Homo sapiens: one gene and its partners. The protein of the gene in region 5 purifies or fractionates together with the protein of the main gene of each other region. This does not show direct contact. Each region holds a gene or a part of one and is shown on either strand. Other genes may lie near its edges.

What was found.
Region 1: the proteins of PCYT1A (region 5) and MTMR6 purify together in Homo sapiens (affinity purification with mass spectrometry; one large-scale study listed by BioGRID and IntAct). This does not show direct contact.
Region 2: the proteins of PCYT1A (region 5) and RAB3GAP1 purify together in Homo sapiens (affinity purification with mass spectrometry; one large-scale study listed by BioGRID and IntAct). This does not show direct contact.
Region 3: the proteins of PCYT1A (region 5) and S100A13 fractionate together in Homo sapiens (co-fractionation; one large-scale study listed by BioGRID). This does not show direct contact.
Region 4: the proteins of PCYT1A (region 5) and DIPK2A purify together in Homo sapiens (co-immunoprecipitation; one study listed by IntAct). This does not show direct contact.
Region 6: the proteins of PCYT1A (region 5) and ACOX1 purify together in Homo sapiens (affinity purification with mass spectrometry; one large-scale study listed by BioGRID and IntAct). This does not show direct contact.

The regions. Positions count from the first base shown.
Region 1 is NC_000013.11:25,258,833-25,264,194, reverse strand, and holds part of MTMR6 (phosphatidylinositol-3,5-bisphosphate 3-phosphatase MTMR6), read left to right. Parts: intron 1-1,986; exon of another isoform or gene 1,987-2,182; intron 2,183-2,392; coding exon 2,393-2,527; intron 2,528-3,507; coding exon of another isoform or gene 3,508-3,621; intron 3,622-5,362. UniProt on the Homo sapiens protein: Lipid phosphatase that specifically dephosphorylates the D-3 position of phosphatidylinositol 3-phosphate and phosphatidylinositol 3,5-bisphosphate, generating phosphatidylinositol and phosphatidylinositol 5-phosphate.
Region 2 is NC_000002.12:135,054,568-135,059,929, reverse strand, and holds part of RAB3GAP1 (rab3 GTPase-activating protein catalytic subunit), read right to left. Parts: intron 1,920-5,362; coding exon 1,844-1,919; intron 1-1,843. UniProt on the Homo sapiens protein: Catalytic subunit of the Rab3 GTPase-activating (Rab3GAP) complex composed of RAB3GAP1 and RAB3GAP2, which has GTPase-activating protein (GAP) activity towards various Rab3 subfamily members (RAB3A, RAB3B, RAB3C and RAB3D), RAB5A and RAB43, and guanine nucleotide exchange factor (GEF) activity towards RAB18.
Region 3 is NC_000001.11:153,620,696-153,625,660, forward strand, and holds part of S100A13 (protein S100-A13), read right to left. Parts: intron 1-4,965. UniProt on the Homo sapiens protein: Plays a role in the export of proteins that lack a signal peptide and are secreted by an alternative pathway. Binds two calcium ions per subunit. Binds one copper ion. Binding of one copper ion does not interfere with calcium binding.
Region 4 is NC_000003.12:143,977,046-143,982,407, reverse strand, and holds part of DIPK2A (divergent protein kinase domain 2A isoform a precursor), read right to left. Parts: intron 1-5,362. UniProt on the Homo sapiens protein: May play a role in cardiomyocyte proliferation through paracrine signaling and activation of the PPI3K-AKT-CDK7 signaling cascade.
Region 5 is NC_000003.12:196,280,239-196,285,600, reverse strand, and holds part of PCYT1A (choline-phosphate cytidylyltransferase A), read left to right. Parts: intron 1-2,062; exon of another isoform or gene 2,063-2,126; intron 2,127-5,362. UniProt on the Homo sapiens protein: Catalyzes the key rate-limiting step in the CDP-choline pathway for phosphatidylcholine biosynthesis.
Region 6 is NC_000017.11:75,967,946-75,973,307, forward strand, and holds part of ACOX1 (peroxisomal acyl-coenzyme A oxidase 1), read right to left. Parts: intron 1-5,362. UniProt on the Homo sapiens protein: Involved in the initial and rate-limiting step of peroxisomal beta-oxidation of straight-chain saturated and unsaturated very-long-chain fatty acids.

The DNA of each region.
Region 1 (5,362 bases), on a different chromosome or scaffold from region 5:
TTTTAATATCTGAGAGCTTTTCCTATTTTCTGAAATTTTTAAAGATGGTTTTCTATTCCTGGATGTGATGTTTTAGTTCTTTGAGGATGTTAAAGATTTAAAAAAATAATTCTCATGCTTCCCACATTAGTTATTGTTTTGCTCAGAGTTCCATTTTTTTCTATTTATTTAGTGTTTTTGTCTTTCATGTCTTTCAAATACCTGTTTCTTGGCTGAGTTCTCATATTCAAGCTGTTTTGAAGTTTGTGTGCAGGAATGGTTTGTATCTTGGGATTCTTTCTTTGTTTTCTTTTTTCTTTTTTCTTCTTTGAGACAAGGTCTCGCTTTGTTTCCCAGGCTGGAGTGCAGTGGCACAATCTCGGCTCACTGCAACCTCCGCCTCCTGGGTTCCAGTGATTCTCCTGCCTCAGACTCCCAAGTAGCTGGGATTACAGGCATGTGCCACCATGCCTGGCTAATTTTTATATTTTTAGTAGAGATTGGGTTTCACCATTTGGCCAGGATGGTTTCGAACTCCTGACCTCAGGTGATCCACCGGCCTCGGCCTCCCAAAGTGCTGGGATTGCAGGTGTGAGCCACCGTGCCTGGCTTTGGGATTCTTTCTGTTGTATAAGTTGGTTTCCTTAAAGAACAAACCTCTAATTTTGGTCCCAATGTGTATAGTAAGTCTGGCCATGATCCAAGGGTGAGAAGAGTGATGTCAGGATTTCACATTTTGTTATGTAGACTTTACTTAATGCTCCTAGTCTTTGTGAGTATAGGGCTTCACCCCTGCCCACAGCTGTGTCTATTGTCTATAGAGTCTTCAGGTTCATCCTTATCATGGAATAAACTTTGTCTTCAAGGTAAGGGAGAATCTGGTGGTCTTAGCTAGTTCTCGTACAGGCATTCAAGCAGTTCTCCTTTTTTTCAGTTATATACCTGCTCAAGCCTTCAGAGGTTTTGAGCCTTTTGAGATTTTGCTGCACAAAATACCTTGCTTCTTACTGACTTAAGGGAGTTAGCAGCTTTCTTTGTCCTGTAAAATTGGTTATCACTTGCTAGTCAGCTGTCATCTCCCCAAATTTTATTGACATCTCTATGTCTTTTTTCCCATTCTCTTTGTCCCTGTGGTTTTATGCATTTTAACTTTCTTTATTCGAACCTGACTTGGATTTTGGGAAGGAGCAGAGGCAAAGGGGTAAGGGTTTAGACAGAAGTTTCTAATCTGCTTTTCACAACTAAATCACAGAGAGGTTAAATGGTTATGGCCTCTCTTGACACAGCCATATGTGTAAACATTGTTTATTGGAAAGTTGGGCTGAAAATAGTTATTCTGTGAACAACTTAACAAATCAGAAAGTAGGTCTGAAAAGAATTTAATAAGGCAATGTTCATTTTCTACTGTTTTATCATATTTTCGTGGTTTTATTTTGTGAGTTTAAAATATGCAATTGTGTGAATTTGCATGTATTTTTGTTTTCCATTGGAGAAAAAGTATATGGATCTAAATCTTTTAAATCTTTTTTTAGGACTTTAAACAATAGTAGGCTGGGCATGATGGCTTATGCCTGTAATCCCAGCATGCTGGGAGGTGAGGTGGGCAGATCGCTTGAGCCCAGGAGTTGACAACCAGCCTGGGCAACATGGCAAAAACCCATCTTAACAAAAAATACAAAAATTAGTCAGGCGTGGTGGTGTGTTCCTGTAGTCCCAGCTACCCTGGAGGCTGAGTTGGAAGGATTGCTTGAGCCCAGGAGGTCAAGGCTGCAATGAGCTGTGATCACGCCACTGCATTCCAAACTGGGTGACAGAGCAAGACCTTGTCTCAAAAACCAACCAGCCAAACAAAAAACAGTAAATAATGAATCCAACCACTCACTACTTATAGATAATTCTTGCTCTATTCGATTGACTGTATTTTAACTCAAATTTGAATTGAAGGTCATTTTTCTCATTTTATATTAAGATTGCCGATTTCTAATTAGAGATCTTAAAACCTTTAGAAAGTAAAAGTTCCAGTGTTGCTACTTAAAAATTCTTGTTCTATTTTTATTGACTAATCTTTTACTTGAACTTCAGTTGGAAGGATCCTGTAATCTAAATGGAGCGCAGAATGAAGATAACAGTAGGTTACTTCACAGAGAATTGACTGGGTGTTATTTCTTAGGACCCAGGTTTCTTCATCAAACTAGATAAGGAGGTATTTAGTTTTCTTATGAGAATAGAATATTGGGAAAACTTAGGAATGTCAAAATATTGAAATAGTATTTAATTCAAAGAGGATCTTAAAGTTAATGCCTCCTAATTATCATATTTGATTTTAACACTTTTGGCTTTTTTTTCTTGTAAGCATCTTTAAAGACATTTTAGAGATCTTTGCATAATCTCTTTTCTGTCCTTTAAAAAATAGGCTGCCATTTGTCGATGTAGTCAGCCACTCTCTGGATTCAGTGCCAGGTGCCTGGAGGATGAACATTTGCTTCAAGCCATTAGTAAAGCCAATCCAGTCAATCGCTATATGTACGTCATGGATACCAGGCCAAAAGTATGTATTTTAAATACAGTACAGTCTGCTAGTTTAATTATTTTTATTACTTTACTTAATGAGAGTTAATAAACTTGCCCATATTTAAAATATCTGAATCCTAGTTTTAAATTAACTAAGGCTAATGATACTAAGGAAATCAATCCTTTATTTAAAGGATACCAATTTAGAAAACCAATTTCTGAGTAACTCATGGTGATTTCTTACATCTTCTGATATATATAAATTCAGGAAAGCTGAATTGTATATTGAGAACTCTTGCTAGTATATAAGTCTTATGTTATTGTGAAGAAATAATAAAATGTGTGTTATGAAAAATAAATTGTTACTATTCTTTTTTTTTTTTTTTTTTTTTTTTTTTTTTAAGACAGAGTTGCACTCTGTCACCCTGGAGTGCAGTGGTGTGATCTCGGCTCACTGCAACCTCTGCCTCCCAGTTCAAGCAATTCTCCTGCTTCAGCCTCCTGAGTAGCTGGTATTACAGGCACGTACCACCATGCCTGGCTAATTTTTTGTATTTTTAGTAGAGATGGGGTTTCACCATGTTGACCAGGCTGGTCTCGAACTCCTGGCCTCAAGTGATCCGCCCACCTCAGTTGGCCTCCCAAAGTGTTGAGATTACAGGCATGAGCCACTGCGCCCAGCCTAAATTCTTATTATTCTTTTTTGAAGAATTTTCAATTGACAAAACATTTTTATGCTAAAATAATGGATTTTAGCTTGAAATTTTCAAGAAAATAAGGAAAACAGTTAACTTAGGAAACATTGAACTAGAGAATTTTAAATAGTGAACAGGAATTTGGGTTATCTTAGGCATCTTGTGTGCTATGGGGCCAAATTTTTATCATTGGGACAAATTTCAGAGTCCCTTCTTCTTTTTATTAACATAGTTAAACAACCAGTTCATATAGGATCCTGAAACTAAAATAATTAAAATCCTCAGTGGTAATAGCTAACGTTACTTTTAATTTTTGTTATAGCGTCGCATGCAGAGCTGGTGGGCTACACAAAAGGACATTGGCAGAATTATAGTGAGGATTTCTTCAAAAATCCAGAATGATGAGAAAATAAGAGAAAGCAATGAGAAAAAGCGAGTGAGCAATATAGAACGCAAGTGGTTTTTAGGCAGCTTTGTGAAAGGAATGGTCACTATTTTAGAAGTGATTCTCATCATTATGCAATTTCACAAAAGATAATTTAGAAACCAGAAGAAGAGATTAATTTGAGTAAATTGTACTTTGGGAGGCCACGGCGGGTGGATCACCTGAGGTCAGGAGTTTGAGACCAGTCTGACCAACATGGAGAAACTCTGTCTGTACTAAAAATACATAATTAGCCGGGCATGGTGGTGAATGCCTGTAATCCCAGCTACTCGGGAGGCTGAGGCAGGAGAATCACTTGAACCTGGGAGGCGGAGGTTGTGGTGAGCCGAGATCACGCCATGGCACTCCAGCCTGGGCAACAAGAGCGAAACTCCGTCTCAAAAAAAAAAAAAAGAATTATCTGGCTGGACATGGTGGCTCACACCTGTAATCCCAGCACTTTGGAAGGCTAAGGTGGGTAGATCACCTGAGGTCAGGAGTTTGAGACCAGCCTGGCCAACATGGCAAAACCCCGTCTCTACTAAAAATACAAAAAATTAGCTGGGTGCGATGGCAGGCGCCTGTAATCCCAGCTACTTGGGAGGCTGAGGCAGGAGAATTGCTTGAACCCAGGAGGCAGAGGTTGCAGTGAGCCGAGATTGTGCCATTGCACTCCAGACTGGGTGACAAAAAAAAAATTAATAATTATTTAAAAATAGAAATTGATAACTTGATAATCTTTTATTAAAAATAAAAGACTTTATTAGGAGTTGAGAGTGTTGGTGATATCTCATAAGAAAAATTCTGGAACACTTTTTTGATAATATTAGATATAAAAGGCGATTGTAATATGAGACTTTTTGAAGATGAGGTCTGATACAGTGATTTGTTTTTCAGGACCTCATAGTTCTTATTTGTATAATTATCTTCTTCACAGAAAATATATCATTCTTTGATTGTTTTACTAGTTAAATGTAACTCAAGTAGTAATAATGTGGAAGCATTTTTTAACATCTAACTGTAGATTTTACTTTAGGTACCGAATAACTAGTGAGTCAGTAGGATACAATTTAACTGTACTTGTTACCAAACTGAGGTCCAATCCACAAAATGAAGAGCTCCTTTTCTTCTAATTTAGGCTTCGTTTTATCCACGTTCATAAGAATTTTTAATAAATTGTGTTAACATACTATATGAAATCCTAGCCTGGAAGAATTAAGCATGACAAATCCTAAGGGACCACTGACAACATTTTGATCTAATAGCTAAAGACCATGGGCATATGAGCAATCTGTTTTTTCCTGGAGACCAGTTTATTTTTGGCCCAATTCTCAGAGATGTATCAGGATAGCCGATTATATGCCATATTATATGATGTATGGGCCTCCAATAATCTCTCATATAATCTCCCTCAAGTAATCTGAAGCATATTTCAGATCTGATTTTCAGGTCCCTATGGCTCTCAGAATGATCAATGCCCTAGGCTTGTTCTGAAGTAAACTCATAGGTTCATTCTGTAAAAGGAAAGTCCCCCAGCCAGCTCTGCTCAACTGAATCATTTAGAAATTAGATAGGAGACATTTCTTTCTTTTTAATTTTAAAATATTACAAACATATGGAAACTGCCTAAAATATAAATGAATTGGTTTCATGAACTTATGGGAACTTTGACCTTTCCATTATATAGCAATCGTATTACTTTATTATCTCCTTCATTACTATTTAATAATGTGGCATTTTTACTTACTAAAAG
Region 2 (5,362 bases), on a different chromosome or scaffold from region 5:
CACCAAACAATCCCTGTCCTCTACACTTTCTTCATATTCATCATAGTTACAGCTCACCTTGAAATCTGCCCATATTTTCTGTATCTTATTTATGTACTACTATCTAGTAGGGAGAAACAGACTGGAGCTATGACTTCATTAGCCTCTACTACATGCCTGGCAGTATGCTACCTACTTTAAATAACTACCCACTTAAATCCCAAAACTGAATTTAGCATCTAAAACTTTAACCCTTAGAGTGACTTTAGTTAACACTAATTGACTGTACATTTCAAAATAGCTAAAAGAGAGTAACTTGCATGTTCTTAGCATAAAGATAAATATTTAAGGGTTCCCAAGTACCCTGATTTGATTATATGCATGTATCAAATTATCACATGTACCCCAAAATATGTACATCTATCATATATCAATTTAAAAAATAATAATAAAATAAAATTTTAATGTTTCTTTACTGATCACCCTCACTAGAATTTATGTTCAATGGCAACACTGATCTTATCTTGTTCACAATTTCTTCACATCAGGCACATAGCAGGTACTCAGTAAATACATGTAAATCAAAGAATGAAAGAATATCAGAGCTCATAAGTACCCGGTTTAGCTCTCTTCTTAGTAGTGTAAATCATTTCCTATTCTAGCTATATCCAGCTTATTTTGCCTCTAATCTTATTGGCATCTATATCAATTGTTATGTATTTGTTTCAAGTGGAGTAGAATGACCCGTGTTTGAAAGCGTCACATTTTCTTTATTCACACATGTAGTGTAGTAAATCAATGTATATATTGCCAAGAGTCTTTGAATGATGTATTTTTTATATGTGGTCTTACTTTTTCTGTTCATATTGATACAAATAAGGAGATTTTTTTTCCTTAAGAGACAGGGTCTCACCATGTTGCCTGGCTTCCTAATGCATTTTGACAGTCTCTTTTTTGATAGTATCACCATCACAAAGCTGAAAACCCCTAGCAAATATTGAGAACTCAAAGTTCCTAACACAGGGTAAATTATAATTAAATTACTATTGAATTAATAATTACTGAGTTAATAAGTTATCACTGAGTTAGTAATATTGAGTTGTAATAAAACCAACCATAAATTTTATTTCAAAAGAATTTATCTAACAAACTAAGCATCTACATAAACTTAAAATCAAATTGTTAGATCCCTTCACAGTGAATCCAGGTTTGTTCTCAGAGTACATTCTTCAGTAAACATTTGGGGTGTGGTTTATGAATAAAACTACCAATACTTTAGATTAGAATTTGATTTCTACCTCAATTTCAAAGAGTAATTTTTTCATTCTTAAATAAAATCCTTAAAACATCCATAAGTTAAAAAGCTTAAAAGGGAAGGGGGATGTTATTAGTGATATTATAAAATACAAAAACTGAGTGAAATAGTTGTTAACTACAGTAAGTCAATGGTAAGTACTAGAATTTTCCTCATTAGTAAGCAAAATATGCTACCAAAGAAGATGGTCACTGCAATGTTTCTCTGACCAAATAAAAAACTTTTAAAAACATGTTTTAACATTCCAAGGGAGAAGGCAAAAGAGAAGCAAACTTCACTCACAAAGAATCACTCACAAAGAATGACATTTTATATATATATATATACACACACACATATATATAACTTTATTAAACATTTCACAAATGTCTTACATATATCATTTGCCACAGATTTAAATCCAAATTCTTCCAAATGCTATTTGATGTTTATAGATTATACGTAACTTTAAAAAACATTTAATTCAAATGTGCCAAATGCAGCAAAGGGCTGGAAAATAGAGGTTTCAAAGTAAATAGTCATTTAGAGACACCAGCAAATAGATCTGACCTTTTCGAGTGGCTTTCCCAAAGAGTTTCCAATCAGTTTCCAGTCATTCAAGACTTCTTCAACTTTGGAAATAAACCTAGGAAGTAGGGAGAAAGCTTCTAAATACAACAGCACACCTTTTTTCCTATTATTATGTAATTTCTTTAAAAAGGTATTTTTTATATTTTAACAATTTGACCAGAGAGGACTCAGTACATTTAGTATTGCTAGCTTAATTTATGGATATGGGGTAAGAGAAATAATCTTCTTTCATTCAAGAATTCTTAGGTTTTGATTCATTTATATCTATTGCTTACCCAACAAAAGCATTCTGCCTTCTATAAAATGTAAATTAAGAATTGATGAATCTCTAATAAAACGAATAAAACAAATTTGGGGCACAAATAAAAACTGACAGACTAAAATGATACTATTAAAGATAATTATGGGCTGGGTGCAGTGGCTCATGCCTGTAATTCCAGCCCTTTGAATTCCTAACCCTGAGGTTGGGAGTTCAAGACCAGCCCAGCACAAATACAAAAAAAATTAGCCCGGTGTGGTGGCACACATCTGTAATCCCAGCTACGCAGGAGGCTGAGGCACAAAAATCACATAGAAGCGGACGTTGCAGTGAGCGGACATCGCGCCACTGCACGCCAGCCTGGGCGACAGAGTGAGATTCCATCTCAAAAATAAATAAATAAATAAAATTATGAAACCAATCATCTCTCTCCTACCCACAATAACTGACCTATTTAAATAAACTTTTCCTTTAAATATATTAGGAATTCCGATTTACCCCCCCAGCCCCCAACAAAAAAAGAAAATATTATTTGGTAACTTGGTTCATGAAACTAAAACAAGTTTTAATGGACAGCTGACAAGAAATTGCAAGTAAATATGTCAACTTTAAGTATAAGTGACAGGTCTTAAAACTAGTCACCAATCTTTAAATCCAATGGTCAAGAAGGCCTATTAAAAAGAGAACTGAATTTTGAGTAGCAACATGCTCAACATCAGTAAATGAAAACTGTCAAGTCTCAGTCAAAGACATTTTCAGAAGAATTATTCTTACTCTAAGTTGACTTCTTATATAAGCTAAGTATGATGCAATCTAACAGCAACATTGCTCTCTAAACACCTGGAAGTACTGCTAGAGTACTAGAGTTAATTCTAGTCAAACTGTATGGAAAGGCAACAGATTTTTTCCTTCAGTGACATTATGAACTAATATGAACTAATAATTATGTTTTAAGATAGTAATAATAAATCTATGATTCATCTGAGGCTTCTTACTAATTCCTCTTTAAAATTAAATGCAGTATCAATTCATACACTAATTCATGGGGGAGGTCAGTCAAATGACAATTACTAGGTTTGAAAATCAGTGCTCTAGAAACAAGTTTACATGTTTACCAAAGAGGAAAAATTTAATATATCCACAGGCAAGCAAAAATTTGCATGAAATGTATACTATATTTACGAAGCTAAAAAAACTGGAAGTTACCTTAATGCCCAACTGCAGGAAATACTTGTAAATTAATCCACTCAGAGGACTAATATGCACCCAATAAAAATCATGTCAATCAAAAGAAAATATACAAAGGCCAGGCACAGCGGCTCACGCGTGTAATCCCAGCACTTTGGGAGCTGAGGCGGGTGGATCACGAGGTCAGGAGTTCAAGACCAGTTTGTCCAAGATGGTGAAACCCCGTCTCTACTGAAAATACAACAAAAATTAGCCAGGCGCGGTGGCAGGCACCTGTAATCCCAGCTACTCAGGAGGCTGATGCAGGAGAATTGGTTGAACCCAGGTGGCAGAGGTTGCAGTGAGCCAAGACTGCACCACTGCACCCCAGCCTGGGCAACAGAGTGAGACTCTGTCTCAAAATAAAAAAGAAAAGAAAAAGAAAAAGAAATATTAATATTTGATCCAAAAAAGTTTTTAACACACGTTAGAAGGAAATATGTCGGCCGGGCGTGGTGGCTCATGCCTGTAATCCCAGCACTTTGGGAGGCCGAGGCGGGCGGATCATGAGGTCAGGAGATCGAGACCATCCTGGCTAACACAGTGAAACCCCGCCACTACTAAAAATACAAAAAATTAGCCGGGCGTGGTGGCGGGCACCTGTAGTCCCAGCTACTTGGGAGGCTGAGGCAGGAGAATGGCGTAAACCTGGGAGGCAGAGCTTGCAGTGAGCCGAGATCGCGCCACTGCACTCCAGCCTGGGCGACAGAGCGAGACTCCGTCTCAAAAAAAGAAAAAAAAAGGAAATATGTCAAAAAATTAACAGCAGTTATTTCCTGGTGTTAAGTTTACAGGTGATTTTTATTTTTTATTCTACTATAAGGTATTACTATTATAGTGAAAACTATTTAAAATATAGTTTTTACAGTAAAAGAAGAAATGTCTTTTTTTTTTTTTTTTTGAGACAGGGTCTCAACTCTGTCACCCAGGCTGGAATGCAGTGGTGTAATCACAGCTCACTGCAGTTCTGTCCTCCAGGACTCAAGCAATCCTCCCATCTCAGCCTCCTGACTAGCTGGGACTACAGGTGCACATCACCATGCCCAGCTAGCTTTTGTATTTTTAGTAGAGACAAGGTTTCGCCATGCTGCCCCAGCTCCTCTTGAACTCCTGAGCTCAAGTGATCTGCCTGCCTCAGCCTCTCTAAGTGCTGGGATTACAGGCATGAGCCACCATGCCCGGCCAGGAATGTCTTAAAATACTTATTGTATGAATAATGAATTCTATCAGTACTAGCTAAGAGACTTGGACTTTATCCTACAAGTATTGAGATTTGACTAGAAAAACTAAGTAATTTTTTCCTTAAAAGCTCTCAGGAAATGAAGGGTCATTTCCTGATTCCTTATTCTATATTAGGTCCCTCTGTTATAGGCTCTTATAAGACCAGGTTTCTTTCCCTTTCTAGCTCTTACATAAACTCATAATTACAGACTTGTATTACTTGATTTGTGTCTGTAATGCACTAGACTGCACATTTAGTAAAAGCAGAAACCGTACCTGTTTTACTAACCACCACATCCCTAAATCCGTAATGTGCACTGTGCTTGACATATGGGGATTCAATAAATATTGTCAATGAACAAATGATAAAAAGAGTTATGGGCTTCTATACAGTTCTCTCAATAAATTATCTATATAGTTCATAACATATTGTACTCACAAGATCTTTCATTTAAAATTAAACTCAAGGTTTGAGACTTCAAAGTCTTAACATTTTCTCTCATGAATTGTAAAATGCACACTACAGTGTAAAAGCCAAAAACCAAATTTTCTACTTTGCAATAGTTCTTATAACGGTGTTAATAATTATTTCCATATGCAAAGCTAAAGGACTTAATATTCCACTTCAGGATATTTTTAACTAGGGGAAAGTGATCATTTTTCCATTCAAAACTGATGTTTCCCTACCCCACCCTCCAAGATTTGAATTACATTTTTCTAACTACCTTCAAGACATCAAATTATTTCAAAATCAACAGGTTCAAATCTTCTCACTTTGACACTTCCTTACA
Region 3 (4,965 bases), on a different chromosome or scaffold from region 5:
ACCTAGAGTTACTTGTAATTTAAAGTATACAGGAGGATGTGCATAGGTTATATGCAAGTACTATCTGATTTTATATAAGGGATTTGAGGCCAGGCATGGTGGCTCACACCTGCAATCTCAGCACTTTGGGGAGGCCAAGGTGAGAGGATCGCTTGAGCCCAGGAGTTCAAGACCAGCCAGGGCAACATTGTGAGACACCCATCTCTACAAGAAAAGGACAAAAAAAGGTAATTGAGCATCCAAGGATTTTGGCATCCAAGGGGGTTCTGGGAACAATTCCCATGGATACAAAATGACAACTATATATTTCATATTATACCACAGGGATATTAAAAAAAACCTTGAATAAATAGAAAATGGAATAAACATATATTTTTCTTAAAGAGAAAGGCTCAATCAGCTAAAAATGTTGATTTTCCCTAAAATATATCTTTTATATGATCCCAATTAAACTATCTACAGGATTTTTTTTTTTTTTTGAGATGGAGTCTTACTCTGTCGCCCAGGCTGGCGTGCAGTAGTATGATCTCAGCTCACTGCAACCCCCACCTTCTGGGTTCAAGCAATTCTCCTGCCTCAGCCTCCCGAGGAGCTGGGATTATAGGCACCCACCACCACGCCTTGCTAATTTTTCTATTTTTAGTAGAGATGGGGTTTCACCATGTTTGCCAGGCTAGTCTCAAACTCCTGACCTCAGGTGATCCACCCACCTCAGCCTCCAAAAGGTCTGGGATTACAGGCATGAGCCACCACGCCCGGCCTACAGGATTCTTTTTAACATTATAAAATGTTACTGGCTGGGCATGGTGGCTCATGCCTGTAATCCCAGAACTTTGGGAGGCCAAGGCGGGTGGATAACTCGAGGTCAGGCGTTCAAGACCAGCCTGGCCAACGTGATGAAACCCCATCTCGGGCAACCCGCTCGGGTCTCTCACACTGTGGAAGCTTTGTTCTTTCGCTCTTTGCAATAAATCTTGCTGCTGCTCAAAAAAAAAAAGAAAGAAAGAAAGAAAGAAACCCCATCTCTACTAAAAATGCAAAAATCAGCCAGGCATGGTGATGCACGGTTCAAGAATCGCTCGAACCCAAGAGGTGGAGGTTGCAGTGAGCCGAGATCACACCACTGCACTCCAGCCCAGCCTGGGTGACAGAGTGAGACCTCGTCTCAAAAAAATTAAAAAAAAAAAAAATTGAAGTTCCATTTCACTCAGAATTATATAAGCGTAAATCAGAAAAAGATATCATTTTCACATCATAGATTAGCAAAAAGTAAAAGCTCAATAACACCCAGTTTGGACAAGTACACAGGCATCGCATGAAGTGTGGGTAGCCATATAAACTGGTACAACTTTTTTAGGAGGCAAATTGGTAATCACAAAAATTAAAAATGAAAGCTGGTCTCGGTGGCTCACCCCTGTAATCCCAGCACTTTGGGAGGCCGAGGCAGGCAGATCATCTGAAGTCAGGAGTGCGAGACCAGCCTGGCCAACATGGCGAAACCTCGTCTCTACTAAAAATACAAAAATTAGCCAGGCGTGGTGGCACAAGCCTGTAGTCCCAGCTACTCAGGGAGGCTGAGCCAGGAAAATCGCTTGAACCTGGGAGGCAGAGGTTGCAGTGACCCGAGATCATGCCACTGCACTCCAGCCTGGGTGAAAGAGCAAGATCCTTTCTCAAAAACAAATTAAAAATGAACATGCCACTTAACCTAATATTTCTACTGCCAAACATTTACCTTATGTTGTTATTTTTCCACCAGTATGTAGGTATACAAACAGATATTTGCAAGAAGGAAGAAATGGACATAAGAAAAATTTCCATCAATAAAGGATTGGGCTGGGCATAGTGGCTCATGCCTGTAATCCCAACACTTTGGGAGGCCAGGGCAGGAGGATCACTTAAGCCTAGGAGTTCAAGACCAGCATGGGCAATATAATGAGGCCCTGCCTCTACAAAAACATTTAAAAATTAGGCCTCAGTTTCCATATATGTGAAGTGAGGAATGGGGACTGTGTTTTCTCTTGGCCTCCTTCCAGCTGTGATGGTCTGTGAATCTCCTGGAAGCCAGCTCTGGGTCCAGTCCTGTCTTGGGGAAATTAGACCAGAAAAGCACAGAACATACACAAGAACCCAACAGCATCATCTGATACAAGCCCATACTCCCACTGGCACACAGTATCTTTGCTTACCTAATTACATGCACGCACACGTACAGAGGCCCTGTCTCTACAAAAAAATTAAAAAATTAGCCAGACATGGTGGCACATGCCTGTAGTCCCAGCTACTCAGAAGGCTGAGGTGGAAGGATCACTTGAGCGTAGGAGGTAGAGGCTGCAGTGAACTGTAATCACGCCATTGCACTCTAGCCTGGGCAACAAAGTGAGACTCTGTCTCAAAAAAAAAAAAAGAGGTATCAGTTGTAAGCTGGTAAGAACGATACAGTGGAGAAGGAAAATTTGAGGACACAAGAAAGAGAGGAGTAATTTCAAGAGGAAAGTCTTTTTTTTTGAGACGGAGTCTCGCTCTGTCGGTCACCCAGACTGGAGTGCAGTGGGTGAGAGGGGATGGGATCCAGGGCACCAGTGAAGGGTTGGCCTTAGGGGCAGTGACGTATCATTTGCATAACAGAAGACTGCTGATTTCGGGGAGGGAGCACATACAAGTTTCCTGATTGCTCCTATTTTCGTTTCCTTTTTTTTTTTTTTCCTTTGAGACAGTCTCCCTCTGTTGCCCAGGCTGGAGTGCAGTGGTGCAATCTCAGCTCCCTGCAACCTCTGCCTCCTGGGTTCAAGCAATTTTCCTGCTTCAGCCTCCCAAGTAGCTGGGATTACAGGCGCACACAACCATGCCCAGCTAATTTTTTAAATATATTTTTAGTAGAGATGGGGTTTCACTATGTTGGCCAGGCTGGTCTCGAAGTCCTGAACTTCTCAGTGAGTAAACTTCTCAGGAAAAGGGAGAACGTGGAAAGATGTACTGAGCTTTGAGGAGAGAAGACAAATTGTGAAATAATTATCTGAAAGAACTGGTAAATGAATCAACCAGGGAAACACAGAACCGCCAGGTATTGCCAAGGGTCCCTTTTGGGGTCTGTGGTTATAGATTTAAAGTGAGACAAGTCAACAAAGCTATGCATTTTTCTCCAGCCAGATTCAGCTATCCAAGTGCAGGTGCAGAACAGTGGATTTAACTGGCAAGTTACTATAGGTGAAATGGTGGATTAACTGGGTTGAGAACAGAGAGAGACAGAATCAACGGGGTTAAGGCAGTGATTACAATTAGAAGCCTTAGAACCTGAGGTGAGGAGGAAGGGCAATGAGGACCCGAGGGATGTTGATGGAAGATGCAAAAGTGAGAGGGTCGAGAGACTGAAGGTACCTGAGGAGTCAGGGAAGTGCTGAAGTGGAGAAGCTAGAGAGGGGAACAGAACTGGAATGACAGGAGGAGGTCAGCAGATAAAGGGAAACTTGAAATCAAGATTTTGGAAGTTGTGCGTTATTTTGTTAATGACACAGTCTAAAGCATGAACAGAGGAGTGGGATGCTGAGATGTAAGAAGACAAATCTTTTTGGAAATGAGGAGTTGAGAAAATTGAAAGGCCCAGATGTTGGATGAATTGTCTGTGCGGATGCTGAAGCCACTGAGAATAACAACAGAAGCAGTGATGAGAAGAAAACAGTGAGCCAGGAGCTGAAGAGCTGTAAGGAGCGCAATAAGAAGAATGGCAGGTGGCAGATGATCTTCCAAGGCGCTGGGAAGTCTTAGAAAGAAGAAGAAACTAAAATCTAGAGATAATGGAAAGCAGAGAGGTCACTTCCTCCATTTCCAGGCCCAGAGGAAGTTGAATTTAGGAAAAAAAAAAAAAAAACCACAATCACTGCTTGACAAGGATATAAGGAATGCTGTCCCTTCAGGAGAGAACCTGAAGTTTCCAGTAAAAAAGATGAAAAAGGAAACGTCTGGCTGGGCACAGTGGCTCATGACTGTAATCCCAACACTTTGGAAGGCCAATGCAGGAGGATCACTTGAGGCCTAGAGTTTGAGACCAGCTTGGGAAACACAGAGAGACCACATCTCTACAAGTAACTTAAAAATTAGGCCAGGCGCGGTGGCTCACGCCTGTAATTCCAGCACTTTGAGAGGCCGAGGCAGGTGGATCACCTGAGATCAGGAGTTCGAAACCAGCCTGGCCAACATAGTGAAACCCCGTCTCTACTAAAAATACAAAAATTATCCAGGCATGGTGGCGGTTGCCTGTAATCCCAGCTACTCATGAGGCTGAGGTAAGAGAACCACTTGAACCCAGGAGGCAGAGGTTGCAGTGAGCCAAGATCGCACCATTGCACTCCAGCCTCGGTGACAGAGTGAGACTCTGTCACAAAAAAAGAAAAAATTAGCCAGGCAGTGTGGCATGCGCCTGTGGTCCCAGCTACTTGTGAGGCTGGGGCAGGAGGATTGCCTGAGCCCGGAAGGTCAAGGATGCAATGAGCTGTGATCGCACAGTGGCCTGGGCAACAGAGTGAGAAACCCTGTCTCAAAAAAAAGTCTGAGAAGTTGGAAGTTGTAGGGGATTTTGCAGATGAAAGACCATGAGTTTCAGAGACTCACTGTGTTCAAGGAGTCCATATTCACACACTTCAACGTGCCTGTGGATTTTCAGAAAGGATGTAAAACAAACTGTCAACAGCCAGAATGACCAGGCCTCTTCGAGGCCAGAGTCGATGAAATTTAAGACCTGACTCCAGCCTGTGAGTGCGAGAGAAGGAATGACTCTTACACCCTAGTAAGGGGATGCCCATAGCGGGTAGGGAGTCTTCACAGATGCACCCACAGACCCCCTACACTGAGGTCTATGACTCCATGAATTTGGCTGTGTTTTCATTTTTGATAAGCCCCTTTCCACTGCTAGGCCTCAGTTTCCATATATGTGAAGTGAGGAATGCGGACTGTGTTTTCTCTTGGCCT
Region 4 (5,362 bases), about 52 Mb from region 5:
CTGCAGAGAGATCTGCTGTTAGTCTGATGGGCTTTCTCTATTTAAAAATTTTAAGTAACAATTCCAGACATTCATCAAAAGATATGCTTATCTTCATGCACCTCCTAAACACCTACTAAAACGGCATCTACAAATAATGAACCCCCTTCCAAATAGAGTGAAGAACCACTAAATTAGAGAAACATCTTTACTGACCTCTAGTAATTTCTAATTCATAATGAAATATATAGACTAGTCACTAAACTCTTAAAAGCACTGATGCTATAAGAAACGTAGAGAGCATCCACAAGCACTAAAAATGCAAGAAACTTAAAAATTGGAAACGTGTACACACAAAAACACAGTATTTTAACTTGTTTTTTATTACTGATAAGCACAAAACAAATTCCAAATGCTGAAATAACCTAATAATCTACCTAGATCAAAATCAAATATTTTATGTGATCAATAAAGGAAATGTAAAATCCAAGAAATTTAGAGTTTAACTGTACCTCAATTGTAAATCCAGTTCAATCTTATTAGTACAGTGTTAAACGATTTACCTAAAGTCACACAGGTAGTAAGAAGCAAATTTAGGCCAAGCTATAATTATCTTTACAACAGTCAAAATGAATTCAAAAGATAGATTAACACAACCTCCCTCAAGCCAATATCCTTTTGTTGAAGTTAAACTTTATTAGTTTGGGGTGGTTTTTTTGGGTTTATTTTTTGTTTTGTTTTTGTTTCTGTTTTTGTTTTTGCTTATTTATCATCTGTTTAAGAATTTTTCAGATTTTATAAAGGTAACGGTTTATATATTACATAAGAGCATTCCAGAAGCCAACATTATGCTGGAAAAATAATGTTAAGATTGATTATTTAACCTAAGTGATCTCCACCCAGGCTGAGACCTAAAGGATGAGTTTAATATTAAGCAGACTGGAGATGGGGCAGTTCAGGCACATGAAAAGCCTGAAAGTATCTTCTCAGAAATGAATAAAAGACCAAAGCAGCTGCAGTGAAATGAATGGGGAAATGACTTGCGGTAAGGGAATCTGGAGAGTGAAGCAAGGACCAGATCATGTTGGGACTTATAGAATCAAACAGAAATCTTCAACTCAGTCTTTATAGCATCATCTATATGTATGCCATGCAAAAACAAATACATGTCAAAATCTTGATGTTCAGGATTATCTTACATACTGAAATCAAACAGTATGCTATGGTATATTTACCTTATTCTAAAAAACAAGCCTTTAAAATATCACGATAACCCTTTGATCAATATCCACCATCCTGCCAGGTTAATAAGGCCATTTCATTCTATCATGCCATAACACAGTCATGAAAAGGGTGGACATGGAATATATGAGTAAAGATACATAAAAGAATACATTTTGGTATTGTTTATTTACTTACAAAAAATAAATGACATGAGACTAATAGATTAAAATAGAGTCTACTTAAAAGTGCTTGTATTCTTTTTTCTCCTACATGACCAAAAATATTGTATACTAAATTTAAAAGATCAAAATTCCTTTTATACAATATAAAATATTTTATAATACTTCATTACCTCATAATATTCCATTAAAAGGAACATAGCTTTGCAGTTTGCCTTAAGAGAGAAAATAAGTACAGACCAAGAGATGTGTTACCATGCAAGACTGATTTTTGTTAAACTTGAAAGTTCTTAGTATAAACAAACTAACTTCAAAAAAACTATTAATAAAACATACAATCTAAAATGTGAATATCGATTTTCTACATAACTGGCATTTCTACAAAAAAAAAAAAAGTTTAAGCTTGAAAACACTCTTAGAAAGTATATGTCATCAAAAGCATAGAAAATGCTTAAAGGGGCCAGGCGCGGTGGCTTCACACCTATAATCCCAGCACTTTGGGAGGCCTAAGTGGGCAGATCACCTAAGGTCAGGAGTTTGAGACCAGCCTGGCCAACATGGTGAAACTCGTCTCTACTAAAAACACAAAAATTAGCCAGGCGTGGTGGTGAGCACCTGTAATCCCAGCTACTCGGGAGGCTGAGGCAGGAGAATTGCTTGAACCCGGGAGGCAGAGGTTACAGTGAACTGAGATCACGCCACTGCACTCCGGCCTGGATGACAGAGACTCCATCAAAATAAAGACAGACAGACACATAAGAAAGAAAAGAAAGAAAGAGCTAACTTAAGTTTTAAAATTATTTTTTAAAGCCCAAATTTGAATGAAATCCCATTGTAGTAACGCATGTTATAACAGCTGTTCATAAAGATTAGTCAACTGTACTGGTGACAGACTAATGTGTTCACAGTTTGGTGAACTGTCTGGAGGGGAGATATAGTAAAATTACGGGGATGATTTAATGGTTACTGAATTTTTGCTAAAATTTCTCTAAGATCTTAGCTTCTTAATTTATACTGCTAAATAGCAGCCAAAATCCATTGCAAATACTGTAGAAGCTTAACAATTTCAAGATTTTTAAGTCCTAGCATATGTCCCATTTATTTCATGAAATAATTTTCTGAATGCCATTTTCCACCCACCTCAAATTCCAACAATATTAAACAATGCCTTGAAAATAGTAAGGTTGTGTTATTTTACTGAATATCATGTCCAACAGCTGTATCTAAAATTGGAAACTGATGTCAAAACACATTTTAAAAACTAAATTTAATAGAAATAGATTATCTTTTAGAATAAATTGCTTAAGAAATGCTGCCCCCACCAAAAAAAAACACAAAACAAAAAACACTTCACTTGTTCACAAGTTTTAAATATGCATAAGTTTACTAGTCTCAACTGACCCTTACTGTGTCCCAGGGGTATATACAGATCAGTTCCTGGCACTATTGACCAATTCCACATAATTACTGTCAGATCTTTTCATTTCAGAGTTAACCCCCAAAAAAGCATTAGAAAGAAAAAATACGAAGACACTGAAGCATCATACTTACTTCAGATTACAAATCTTTTAAGATTCTGTCTCAGAGTCTAAGGTCTAGACTTAACCTGTTTTTTTGTACTACCATTTACCAATGTACTAAATAGAATTACTAAACTATAATAATGATTTACAGAGAAAAAAAGAAACTATTTGCCTTTTACTTCTTAATCCTTATCTAAACCGTCTTTCCTACCATATTCATTCTATTCATTACACTTCATATGAGACAAATCCCTAATCCCCTTTTAAACTACTATTTTTAAAAAACTATAGCCTGAATAGGTACATATGATTTACGTATATGTAAGGACAGTGACATTTGAATGTCTGCAATAAGAAAAGTAGGATTTTTACATTTCTAAGACAGACATCAGCATAATGTACTAAAGAACTTTTAACTACTATAGCTGTCTAAAAATGGAATAAGCTGATTTTCAAAGAAATAATACACTGTAAAAAGCTTTACAACTGAAAACATTTAACAGATATTACTTGAATAATCCTTTCTTCTTTAATCTTTAAAACAATCCTGTTAGGTAAGTATTAACAACCCCATTTTACTGATTAAAAAAACTTAGAATCGGAAACATTAAGTGACTTGCTCAATACCATCCAACAACTTTGTGGTAATACAGAATGTGAAATGGATGCTCTATCAATACTGCCCCCTCCACCCTTCCTCCCACTCTCCACCCCCATCTATTGGCAAAATCTCTGAAACTTTCCCTGGTACCATTCCTATCAATATACAATGAGATGTCCCTCCCTGAGTCATGTGACAGTATATATATATATATATATAGATATATATATATCTATATATAGATATATATATATATATATAGATATATATATATATATAGATATAGATATATATATATAGATAGATAGATAGATATAGATACCTTTTGTACAGGGCTTATTAAATGGATTGTATAATAATTAGTTATTTGTGTACCTACCTCCTACATAGTAAGCTACTTGTTTCCTACGGCCATCTTTCCATCCTTTCAATCCAAATGCCTTGTAACAGATTGTAAAATGAACAGACAAATTCAGTTCTTTTGGTTATAAATTCAAAGAGCTCTCAAGAATTTCACAGACAACTTCCTATCACCTTATACTAACCTCACCTTACACTAATAATTTTCAGTCATGTTACAACCATTTACTAAAGTTCATCAAATGTATTAGAAAAATGCAGGATTTAAATTATAAGGCCATAATTTAACATATGGGTAATGAGTGAAAGCTGAAGAAAGAAAAAAATAGCATTCTGTGAAGAGTCAGCAGCAATGACAGAAAAATAGGAAGTAAGCCAGAGCCCACAAACCAAAAAAACAGAATAAAAACCAGTCTGACAATCCCCTGAGAAGCTGGACACCCATGTCCAGAAGACCTATAAAAACAAGCTTTCTATTTCCCAACATGTGTGAGAATATGTGCTAACCTATGCAATGGAAATATAAAGAATAGTTCAAAGACTAGACAAAAGTATACAAAGGACAAAATTCAAAATGGTCAAAAGATATGGATATGTCCAGAAACTAGTCCAGGATGTCAAATGACTTTGCTCTACTGATTCTGAAGTGATGCTTTCTTAAGGGCGATTGTCTGTTTCTAGGGTCTTTCTAAAATAAAAGTCCCCACCCCCTTTTTGGACTTGAGGTATCCAAAATTGTTTTATTATTTTTGTTTGATTATCTTGAAGAGCAATCAAAAGTGTCAATGGACTCTCAGATGAAAAGCCACAAAAAGTTCAAAAACTTACAAAATTTATTAGATTAAAAACTGCTCTACTAAGAACCATCTCTAATGTGTTCTGAAGCCGAAATCTAGGAAGACAGTTACTAAAGAAACAGCCAGTAAAGGAGAAGTAGGTGGTTCCTTAAACTGTTGTTTGAAAAGAAACTCCTGAAACAAAGTCTGGAACATCGTTTTGCACACTATTGCCTCACAAGATCCTTGGCTACCCTTAACTCCACATATTTCCCCTTAAAGGAAGGTTTTGGTTTTTGTTTTATTTCATGTGTGTAAAAATTTGGGGGTAGGAAGAAAGGCTTGAAAGAGAGCATCCCACTCCCAATCCCCTTTCAGAAGAGCTTAATTAAACCCACTCGTTAAAGTTCAAAAGAAAACAACAACAACAACAACAACAATAAAAACCAAATTTCTCAAGAGTTTGAAAGCCCCAGAATGTTGGAGCTGAAAAGGATCTAATCCAATAGCTTCATTTTATAAAGAAGGAAGTGAGTCCAATAGTAAAAATCTATCAACTTTTCTAAAGTACCGTTAGCTAAATAATCTTTTGTTTACTTCAAAAACTACATTTTCACCAGTGAACTTAAAAAATATGTTGTTCCCTATATAAATTACTTTTAAAGGCAAAAACAACATTCACTGAAAGTTTTCTACAAAAAATTATATCAAAGTAATAAT
Region 5 (5,362 bases):
TGAAGCTTTAGCTGCTGACTTTATTTCCTACACATTCCCTTTCTTTAGGGCTGTGAGTGATGTAGATGAAATTAAAGTGAATGTTACTACTTCCTTCTCTCTTACAGCCCTTTTTATTTTATTTATTTATTTATTTATTTTTGAGACAGAGTCTCACTCTGTTGCCCAGGCTGGAGTGTGCTGGCACGATCCCAGCTCGCTGCAACCTCCGCCTCCTGGTTCAAAGCGATTCTCCTACCTCAGCCTCCTGAATAGCTGGGACTACAGGCATGTGCCACCATGCCTGGCTAATTTTTGTATTTTTAGTAGAGACAGGGTTTCACCACGTTGGCCAGGCTGGTCTCAAACTTCCGAGCTTAGGTGATCTACTAACCTCAGCCTCCCAAAGTGCTGGGATTACAGGTGTGACCACCACGCCTGGCCTTACAGCTCTTTTTAGAAGGTGCTATTGATTGTGCCACCAGTGCTTTTTATAATAGGAGAAGTATGAGGTCATTTAATTTATCGTACAGTGTATTAATCTGATAACCACTCCTGCCCCCTACACTCTGTAATAGGGGAATAGAGTTCAGATAGGTTCTTGAATGGGAATGAGTTGAGAATGGTGGGGGATAGCCTTTTCTTGGCTAAATAAATTGGTTAGTTACACCTTTTTCTAGCACATTAGATGTTTACTTGACTTACATTCTACATAGCTAAAAGGAACTACCCAGGGGTTTCTTCTAGAACAGCATCTATGCTTCAAGGTAACAGACTGTGGAAGAGGCTTGGGATTCAGCAGTACTCCCTCTAGGGTCTTTTTTCTTTGCTGAATGAAATGAATCTTTTTGTAGGACAAAAGATTTGCTTTGCAAATTCCCTTTGAAAACTAGCATGATGGCCTGGTTGATAAAGAATGAGCTTCATTCCCCCTCAGTCTATGACTCTCCTCCCATAAGCAGTGGGGTTTTATTTTCCCTGGGGACCTGCTTTTTGGATATGTGATCCCTTAAGAAGAATGACCTCGTCAGATAGAGCCTGGACTTAGCAGTCCCTGGTGACTTTCTCCGATGTTAACATTTACTCGCCCTGTGACTATGTATGGAAAGCATTATTGCTTTCTCTTGTTGTAGATTTTCTAACCATGGCCAGAGGTAACTCTTCTTATGATTAAACAGCCCTTTAATAATCTGAAATATATGTGAACTTACCAAATTTTGTATGTAATTTCATAGAGTTTGTAAACCATCTGACTCCATTTATAATTCAGAGCTGTCTGGCCTTTAAGTTAGACAGTATTTCCCTAGGGAGCTGAATAACCTCTCCTAGAGATGTTATAAGTGCTGATGAGAATTAGTTTTTGAAATGCTCAAATAAAAAGCATAATTTTCCATTGTTATTAATGATGGATAATAGCAAAATATCTGCTAATAATAGTAGAGTTCTTACTTAAGCATCATGCTTTTCTAAGTATTTACATAACTGATCTGAAGCAGACCTTCTGATTTTTCTACTAATAGAAATTTCCCTTTCTGAATCAAGCAGAAATAGGTCTCCCTTACATCAAAGTTTGTGTTACCTTGAAATAGATTGGAAAGAATACATTTTTGTAAAAGTCATTTTTTTCTTGGATTTGTTTCCAGTTGGAGAAACCCTAAAGTCAGGGCACTTGCCAATTATCACAGGACTGTGAGAGTCCCTTTTTTGCTCAAGATTGTGGCTGGCTGCTTGTACATCTTTGACATTATCACACATCAAGCATATTAGAAAAAGGGGTGACTTGGGAGAGTGAGGGGATCAGCACTTTAGGCCTTGTCAACCCTCCTGCTTATCTGCTTGGCAGCTTCTGGCATCTCCTTTTCCCTAAGTCCTTGAACCTCTTTCCTAAGCGTAAACCTTTCTGTTTTTAGTCCTAAACCTCTCTTTTCACAGTATTCCTGTCAAATGAGTACTTAAACACATGTTTCATCTGTGATTTGTTTTGTTAATTGCTTTGTGGATTATTTGTGGCAGAATTTAAATCCTAATTCCTTTCTACAATTTAGCCAGTAAATTCAAGGAATGTACCTTTTTACGTTTGCAGCATGTGCCGAAGCGCCACCTCAGAAGATAAAAAGAAATGAGTCTCATATTTGGCATTCTTTTAGGTTTGTTACCTACCTTATTCATTAATGTAAATAATTGAATTACCTGTATTTTACCATTCGTAAACCAGGTTAATAGATATATATTAATAGCAGGCTTTCTGTGTGTGTCTTTTCCCTCCTTTCTTTCTATTTATTTATTTATTTATTTTTTGAGACCAAGTCTTGCCTTGTTGCCCAGGCTAGAATGCAGTGGTGCAATCTTAGCTCACTGCAAACTCTGCCTCCTGGGTTCAAGCGATCTCCTGCCTCAGCTGGGATTACAGGTGCCCGCCACCACGCCCAGCTAATTTTTGTATTTTAGTAGAGACGGGGTTTCATCATGTGGGCCAGGCTGGTCTTAAACTCCAGACCTCAAGTGATCCATCCGCCTCGGCCTCCCAAAGTGTTGGGATTACAGGCGTGAGCCACTGTGCCTTGCCCCTTGCTTTCTTTTGGGAATTCTCTTGTACCACAAGTTGAAAGTTATATTAGTTTGAGGCTTTCTATGTTTGGACTAGGATGACTGCCAGTGAGCCAGGGGAACCCATGAATCTGCTAGGCTGTTATATCACATTCACAACTACTTGCAAACCAGTTTTGAAGTGAAGGCTGCCAAAAATAATGACATATGGTCCCTGCTCTATAGAAAATGAGCATATGACCCTTAATAAAAAACAGGTAGTTTTTTTATATACAGAAAATTACCCTAAATGTGATTATGTTTCTTTATTTTTTGACCGTAGAACAGGAATCTTAATCTTTTTTGTGTTATGGACTCCTTTGGCAGTGTGGTGAAAGCTTTTAGAGTTCCTTTTTGGAATATGTTTTTATATGCAAAAATAAAATACATAGAACTATAAAGAAAACCAGTTATATTGAATTATATTGATATATAGTTATCAAAATTTAAGAAGTATGATATGGTATGAAAATATCCATGATTTCTACTGGTAACAAATCCATTTGTCTAATAAGTCTGCTATTACTGCTGTAGCTTATGTTCATCACTGAAGTGAAAATAAAGATACAGTCTTTTTCATCCAAATTCACAGACTTCCTGAATTCTATCATAGACCCTGCCTCAGAGATATGAGTTCCATAACCCACTCTAGGAAGATCACATTCTAAACACAAGAGTTTACTCACCAAATATTCTGGTAGAATAGTGGCAGAGTAAAATTGTTCAACTGTAAGAACTATTACATGTGTCCCTCATGGTTTTTTCTTTCCTGAAATATTCTACTACATGTCCAGGCCGAAGAAGTATAAGCTTTATTATGTGTGCCAGTGGCTAACCCAGGGTCTGGCACAGAGTAAGTGCCGCTCAGTGTTTGTTGAATAAGGGTTTCTCTGACGAAATTAGAGGGAAGAGATCCAGTTCAAAGCTAAGGTCTTAAATGTGACAGTTTATAGGGCTCATGACAAGTAACGTTGAACTTTAGTTTAGAACTAATCTGTCAGAGAAGCTCATGTTTTGAAATTCACTTTTACATTTATAAGTTCTCAGCCTGGTGTGATAGTTCATACCTATAATCCCAGCACTTTGGGAGGCTGAGGTGGGAGGATTGCTTGAGGCCAGGAGTTTGAGACCAACCTGGGCAGCAAAGTGAGACCCCCATCTCTACAAAAAATTAGCTGGGTGTAGTGGCATGTGCCTGTAGTCCTAGCTACTTGGGAGGGTGAGGCAGGAGGATCACTTAAGCCCAGCAGTTCGAGGCTGCAGTGAGCCATGATTGCACCACTGTACTCGAAATAATTCTATTTCTAACACTGTTTTTCACTTTAGATTGGGTAAATTTAGGTAGAATTTGCCACCAAATTATTAATAAAGCTGGTCCTGATTTCATCTAGGATGAGAGGTAGCAAACTTTTTCAGTAACGGGCCAGATTGTAAATAGTTTAGGGTTTGCAGGTCACACAGTATCTGTGACTACTCAGCTCTGCTGTTGTAGCACAAAAGCAGCCATGGACAATAAACACATCAGTGAGTGAACATGGCTGTGTTCTGATCGAATTTTAATTACAAAAACAGGTAGTGGGCCATCTTTGGCCAGCTAGCTGTAGTTTGCTGACCCCTGATCTAGATTTTCTGGTTCTTGAGTCCAGCTCTTTTCCCTACTTTCGCTTAGCCATATACTCCTTCAAGCTTCAAAGGCCTTTACATAGGGGGCAATGTCCTTACACTGTTATCTCCAGAAAGACCTGAGTGTACAGCAAGATGATAGGATTAATGAATGCCAGGAATATTAGATGCACTTTAACCCTTGAGTTTCCAGAGCTTGCCTCTTAGAGCACCAGCTCATTAAGCACCACCACGGTAGAAGCAGAGAAACATCCCAAATGTAAAGTCTGCTTGCGCACTCGGCTTTGGAACTGGGCATTGATATGCTGATAGAAAAATACTGGGCATTGGGTTTTAGTGGGGAAGATAATGTAGGCCTAGAGATGGGGAAGGCAGGAATAGAGTGCAAAGGAAAAATTATGCCTCATCTTTTTGCAAATAGTTCCTTGTAGTAATTGGTCAAGTTTGAGTTAGATTTTTGAAATGTGGAATAGCATATGTAATTGCAACTTGCTACTACAAGAGCTCACCCTTAGTCGCAGTTTTACTTTCCGTGGTTTCAGTTACCCACAGTCAGCCACGGTCAGAAAATAGGTGAGTATGATGTAGTAAGATATTTTGAGAGTGAGAGAGAACAGCCACATTCAGATAACATTTATTACAGTATATTGTTATAATTGTTTTATTATTAGTTATTCCTGTTAATCTCTTACTGTGCTTAATTTATAAATAAAACTTTATCATAGCTCTGTGTATATAGGGAGAAAACAAAGTAGAGTCAGCCCTTCGTGGCCATGGGCTCCACATCCGCAGATTCAGCCAAACTTGGATCGAAAATATTCAGAAAAAAAAAAAAAAAAAAACAATAAAAATACCAATACAACAATAAAAAACAGTACAAATAAAAAACCAATATTGTATAATAACTGGTTACATAGTATTTACATTGTATTAGGTGTTGTAAGTAATGTAGAGAAGATTGAAAGTATATAGGGGGTATAGATTATATGCAAATTCGACACCGTTTTATATATATAAGGGACTTTTGAGCATCTGTGGATTTTGGCATCTGCAGGAGATCCTGGAACCAGTGCCCTGCAGATTCTGAGGGACAACTGTCCATATAGGGTCCATACTCTCTAGGGGTTCAGGCATCTGCTGGCGTCTTGAAACATTTCCCCTGTGGATAAGAGAG
Region 6 (5,362 bases), on a different chromosome or scaffold from region 5:
CCAGACTGGTCTCAAACTCCTGATCTCAAGTGATCCACCCACTTCGGCCTCCCAAAGTGCTGGGATTACAGGCGAGAGCCATTGCACCCAGCCAAAAAACCGTATTTTATACATAGAAAACACAAACAGTAAATCAAAACACGTAATAACATCCAGGCTTACTAGTAATGGGAAATTAAAACATTAAGTGTTAGAAATATATTAAAGTAGGCCAAGTGCAGTGGCTCACGCCTGTAATCCCAGCACTTTGGGAGGCCGAGGCGGGCGGATCACGAGGTCAGGAGATCGAGACCATCCTGGCTAAAACGGTGAAACCCCGTCTCTACTAAAAATACAAAAAATTAGCCGGGCGTAGTGGCGGGCGCCTGTAGTCCCAGCTACTTGGGAGGCTGAGGCAGGAGAATGGCGTGAACCCGGGAGGTGGAGCTTGCAGTGAGCCGAGATCCCGCCACTGCACTCCAGCCTGGGCGACAGAGCGAGACTCCGTCTCAAAAAAAAAAAAAAAAAAAAGTTAGCCGGGCATGGTGGAGGGTGCCAGTAGTACCAGCTACTCAGGGGGCTGAGGCAGGAGAATAGCGTGAACCCAGGAGGCGGAGCTTGCAGCGAGCGGAGATCATGCCACTGCACTCCAGCCTGGGCGACAAAGCGAGACTCCGCCTGAAAAAAAAAAAAAAAAAAAGAAATATATTAAAGTAGGCCATGTGCAGTGGCTCATGCCTGTAATCCCAGCACTTTGGGAGGCTGAAGCGGGCGGATCACCTGAGGTCAGGAGTTCAAGACCAGCCTGACCAACATGGAGAAACCCCGTCTCTACTAAAAATACAAAAGTAGCCGGGCGTGGTGGCGCATGCCTGTAATCCCAGCTACTCAGGAGGCCGAGGGAGGAGAATCGCTTGAATGCGGGAGGCGGAAGTTGCGGTGAGCCGAGATCACGCCACTGCACTCCAGCCTGAGCAACAAGAGCAAAACTCCGTCTCAAAAAAAAAAAAAAAGAAATATGTTAAAGTAGCAAAATAAATTAAAGTGACCACGTTGATGGAGCTGTGGAAATACAGGTACAGAGCTTGCTCAATATATTGTCAACTGGTTCTGTGTTTCAGGAAAAGCCTCAAACTATGCAGCAAAAGCTCTAAAATGCTCATGTCCCTCAATATAGTAATTCATTTCTGAGAGGTATTCCAGAAGTATGACCCCAAAGAATACAGCGTCTTATTTATTTATTTATTTATTTATTTTTTGAGACGGAGTCTCACTGTTGTTACCCAGGCTAGAGCGCAATGGCGCAATCTCAGCTCACCACAACTTCCACCTCCCAGGTTCAAAAGCTTCTCCTGCCTCAGCCTCCCTAGTAGCTGGGATTACAGGCACGCACCATCACACCCAGGTAATTTTGTATTTTTAGTACGGACGGGGTTTCTCCATGTTGGTCAGGCTGGTCTCGAACTCCCGACCTCAGGTGATCCACCCACGCTGGCCTCCCAAAGTGCTGGGATTACAGGCGTGAGCCACCGTGCCTGGCCAGAACACAGCTTTCATAAAGTTTATATTATTATCACTAATATTGGTGAAATTTAGCCCAAATCCCCAGGGAAGCAAGTCTCATGAGAAGTCCAACAGGGAAGAGAATCACTTGGGCAGAGGGAAGAGGAGACTGTTAAGCCTAGGGAGAGAGGGCAACGGAGTGCGGTAAAGACTGATGACTTAAAAATCAAGTTTACTACCTCTTTCCAGTTTCAAAGAAAGGTGCATTATTTCATATTTAAGTGTTAATGATGGCAATTTGCCAGGATACTGCATCAGCTTCAAGGATAACTATGTATCATACAATCTCTATATTCCTAAATAGATGGTAATACGAAACAAGGCAATGTGACCCCAGTCCATGGGTGAGGAATAAAGAAAGAAAGGAACGAAAGGAATGGAGGAAGGGAAGAAGACAGAAAGAGAGCGAGAAAGAGGCCGGGTGCAGTGGCTTACACTTCTAATCCCAGCACTTTGGGAGGCCGAGGTGGGCAGATCGCCTGAGGTCAGGAGTTCAAGACCAGCCTGGCCAACATGGTGAAACCCTGTCTCTACTAAAAATATAAATATTAGCCAGGTATGGTGGTGCACACCTGTGATCCCAGCTACTCAGGAGGCTGAGGCAGGAGAATCACTTCAACCAGGGGGAGGTGGAGGTTGCAGTGAGCCGAGATTGTACCATTGCACCACTCCAGCTTGGGCAACATGAGACTCCTTCAAAAAAAAAAAAAAAAAGAGGAAGGAAGGAAGGAAGTGAGCAAGCAAGCAAACAAGGAAAACAAAGCAAGAAGAATCTCCAGAAATGGCCACATCTTGAAATGATTACATATCTGTGAAGAGCAAACAAACGACCTGTTTTGTGGCCTAAAGAAACATATGGTCAGGATGATAACATGGACCCAGTTCCCCAGGCTGTTCCTTTGATCCCAGAACTCCAGGGAGGTGAGCCTATCACCCAGGTTCAGGCCTCTGCCTTTGATTATGGCTCCCAGACCCACAGGGCAGGTGTATATCCGAGTTTCTTCGTGTCCTTAGAGGAAAGAAGACACACTCTAGAAAGAAGGATAATGCTGGTGACTGAGACTTTCTGTAGGTGACTGAATTTTAGGATTTGGAAGGAACATGGAGTGAACCTGAATACTTCTGAGCCCCTTCACTTCTCAGCAGCTACCCAGAAGTGAAAGAATCCCAAACCCAAAGTTACAGCTACTTCTGTGAGACCGCGTTAGATAATCACTGTTCACTGTTGATCCATTTTCCAAAGTCTCAGAATTTAAATAGTTAGATCTCATTCTATATAAGCTGCTCTATTGCCGATCTCCTGGACGTTGACTTTTTGTGTATTCCATATAAGATAAAACCGTCACGTGATGCAAATTAACCAACCTGACTTATTTCCAAGGAAAAGATCAGTCATCAACCAAGAACAGCAATATGAATTAGCAAAATTCCAGCAAGAAAAAAGACTAATCTTAGGACACTGTTCTCTAAACCACAGAGATTAAGACAACGTTGGTTTAAATACAAGAAAATACCCAAAACTAGCTGGGCATGATGGCTCACGCCTATAATCCCAGCACTTTGGGAGGCCGAGGCGGGCAGATCACCTAAGGTCGGGAGTTCGAGACCAGCCTGACCAACATGGAGAAACCCCGTCTCTACTGAAAATACAAAATTAGCCGGGCATGGTGGCACACGCCTCTAATCCCAGCTACTAGGGAGGGAGAGGCAGGAGAATCACTTGAACCTGGGAGGCGGAGGTTGCGGGGAGCCGAGATCGCGCCATTGCACTCCAGCCTGGGCAACAAGAGCAAAACTCTGTCTCAAAAAAAAAAAAAAAAATACCCAAAACTAAAAGCAATAAGGGAACGAAAACTCTAACAAATGCAAACTTGCCCACAGCCATATAGGATCTCTGTCCAACTTCTGTTTGCCTCAAACCAGTATAGTTCAAGTCTTCCTTTCTTCCTCTCTCCTTTCAAAAATTAGGGCAGGCCGGGCGTGGTGACTCACACCTGTAATCCCAGCACTTTGGGAGGCTGAGACAGGTGGATCACCTGAGGTAAGGAGTTTGAGACCAGCCTGGCCAAAATGGCCAAACCCCATCTCTACTAAAAATAACAAAATTAGCCGGGCATGGTGGCAGGTGCCTGTAATCCCAGCTACTCAGGAGGCTGAGGCAGGAGAATCCCTTGAACCCAGGAGGTGGAGGTTGCAGTGAGCTGAGATCACTCCACTGCACTTCAGCCTGGGGCACAGGATGAGACTCTGACTCAAAAAAAAAAAAAAAAATTAGGGCAAATATATATTTGTGATATTACTTTATAAATGAGGCAGAAGCATTAGACCAACAAGAGGTAAGAGGTATACTTAACAAATCCATTAGCCTCAGACTATTTCACATCTTATGCCTCCTATGAACAGCATGACTGTTAAGTCGAATAAATTCTATAATGATGAATACTGAAACAGAGTTCTGTACCACAAAGCTACTTCAAAATTACAACACACACACACACCACGCATGCATGTACACAAACACACAGATACTCCAAGCGAGGAGGACTACATAAAGAATCTTATCTCTCAGGCCGGGTGCAGTGGCTCATGCCTTGTAATCCCAGGACTTTGGGAGGGCAGATCACGAGGTCAGGAGATCAAGACCATCCTGGCTTACACGGTGAAACCCCGTCTCTACTAAAATACAAAAAATTAGCCGGGCGTGGTGGCGGGCACCTGTAGTCCCAGCTACTGAGGAGCTGAGGCAGGAGAATGGCGTGAACCCAGGAGGCGGAGCTTGCACCGAGCCGAGATGGCACAACTGCACTCCAGCCTGGGCGACAGAGTGAGACTCTGTCTCCAAAAAAAAAAAAAAAAAGGAAGGATCTGTCAGCCAGGCGCGGTGGCTCACGCCTGTAGCCTGTAATCCCAGCACTTTGGGAAGCCAAGGTGGACAGATCACCTGAGGTCAGGAGTTAAAGACCAGCCTGGCCAACATGGAGAAACCACGTCTCTACTAAAAATACAAAATCAGCCGGGCGTGGTGGTGAGCACCTGTAATTCCAGCTACTCGGGAGGCTCGGGCAGGAGAGTCACTTGAACCCAGAGGCGGAGGTTGCAGTGAGCTGAGATCATGCCATTGCACTCCAGCCTGGGCAAAAAAAGCAAAACTCTGTCTCAAAAAAAAAAAAAAAAAAAAGAATCTTATCTTCCTTTACAAACCTTTCTTTCAGGCTTATAATTTCAGTACTGACCATCTTGAAGTTGAAGTCTTGAGTGTTTAGTAAAGTGTCTGGAACATCAAACCATGACCAGAAAGCTGCAGTACCCATGGAGATGACAATAAATAACATTTTCCTTAAACCAATTCACACACTGAAATCAGCAATCAAACACAAAATGATGTTTCCCTGATATCTGCATCCCTTTTTCTTTCCCTTTCTTTACTCCTGCCATTTTGATAATTAGACATGAGGCTGGGCAGTTCAAATTCCAAACACTCAAACCTGCCAATGGCCTTGTCTATGAAAACAAACCTATTTCACATTAAGATCAAAAGCAAAACTTTTTGAAGGAAGCCAGATATTTAGGAACAATTTAACAAAGAATTACTGGCAACACAAGAGTTCCCAGACATGTAGGGGAAAAAATGTCTAAAAAGACTGAAGTCAGATGAAGAGAATCATGGACTTTTTTCCAAACTGCCTTATAACCCTGCTAGTGGGCAATGAGATGAGACAGGTAGCTGCCACTGCCTGCTGCCCCCATTAAAATCCACAGCTTTAACTGCATTAGAGCAGAGAGGCGCTTTCCAGATATTGCTGAGGCACTAACCCTCTGA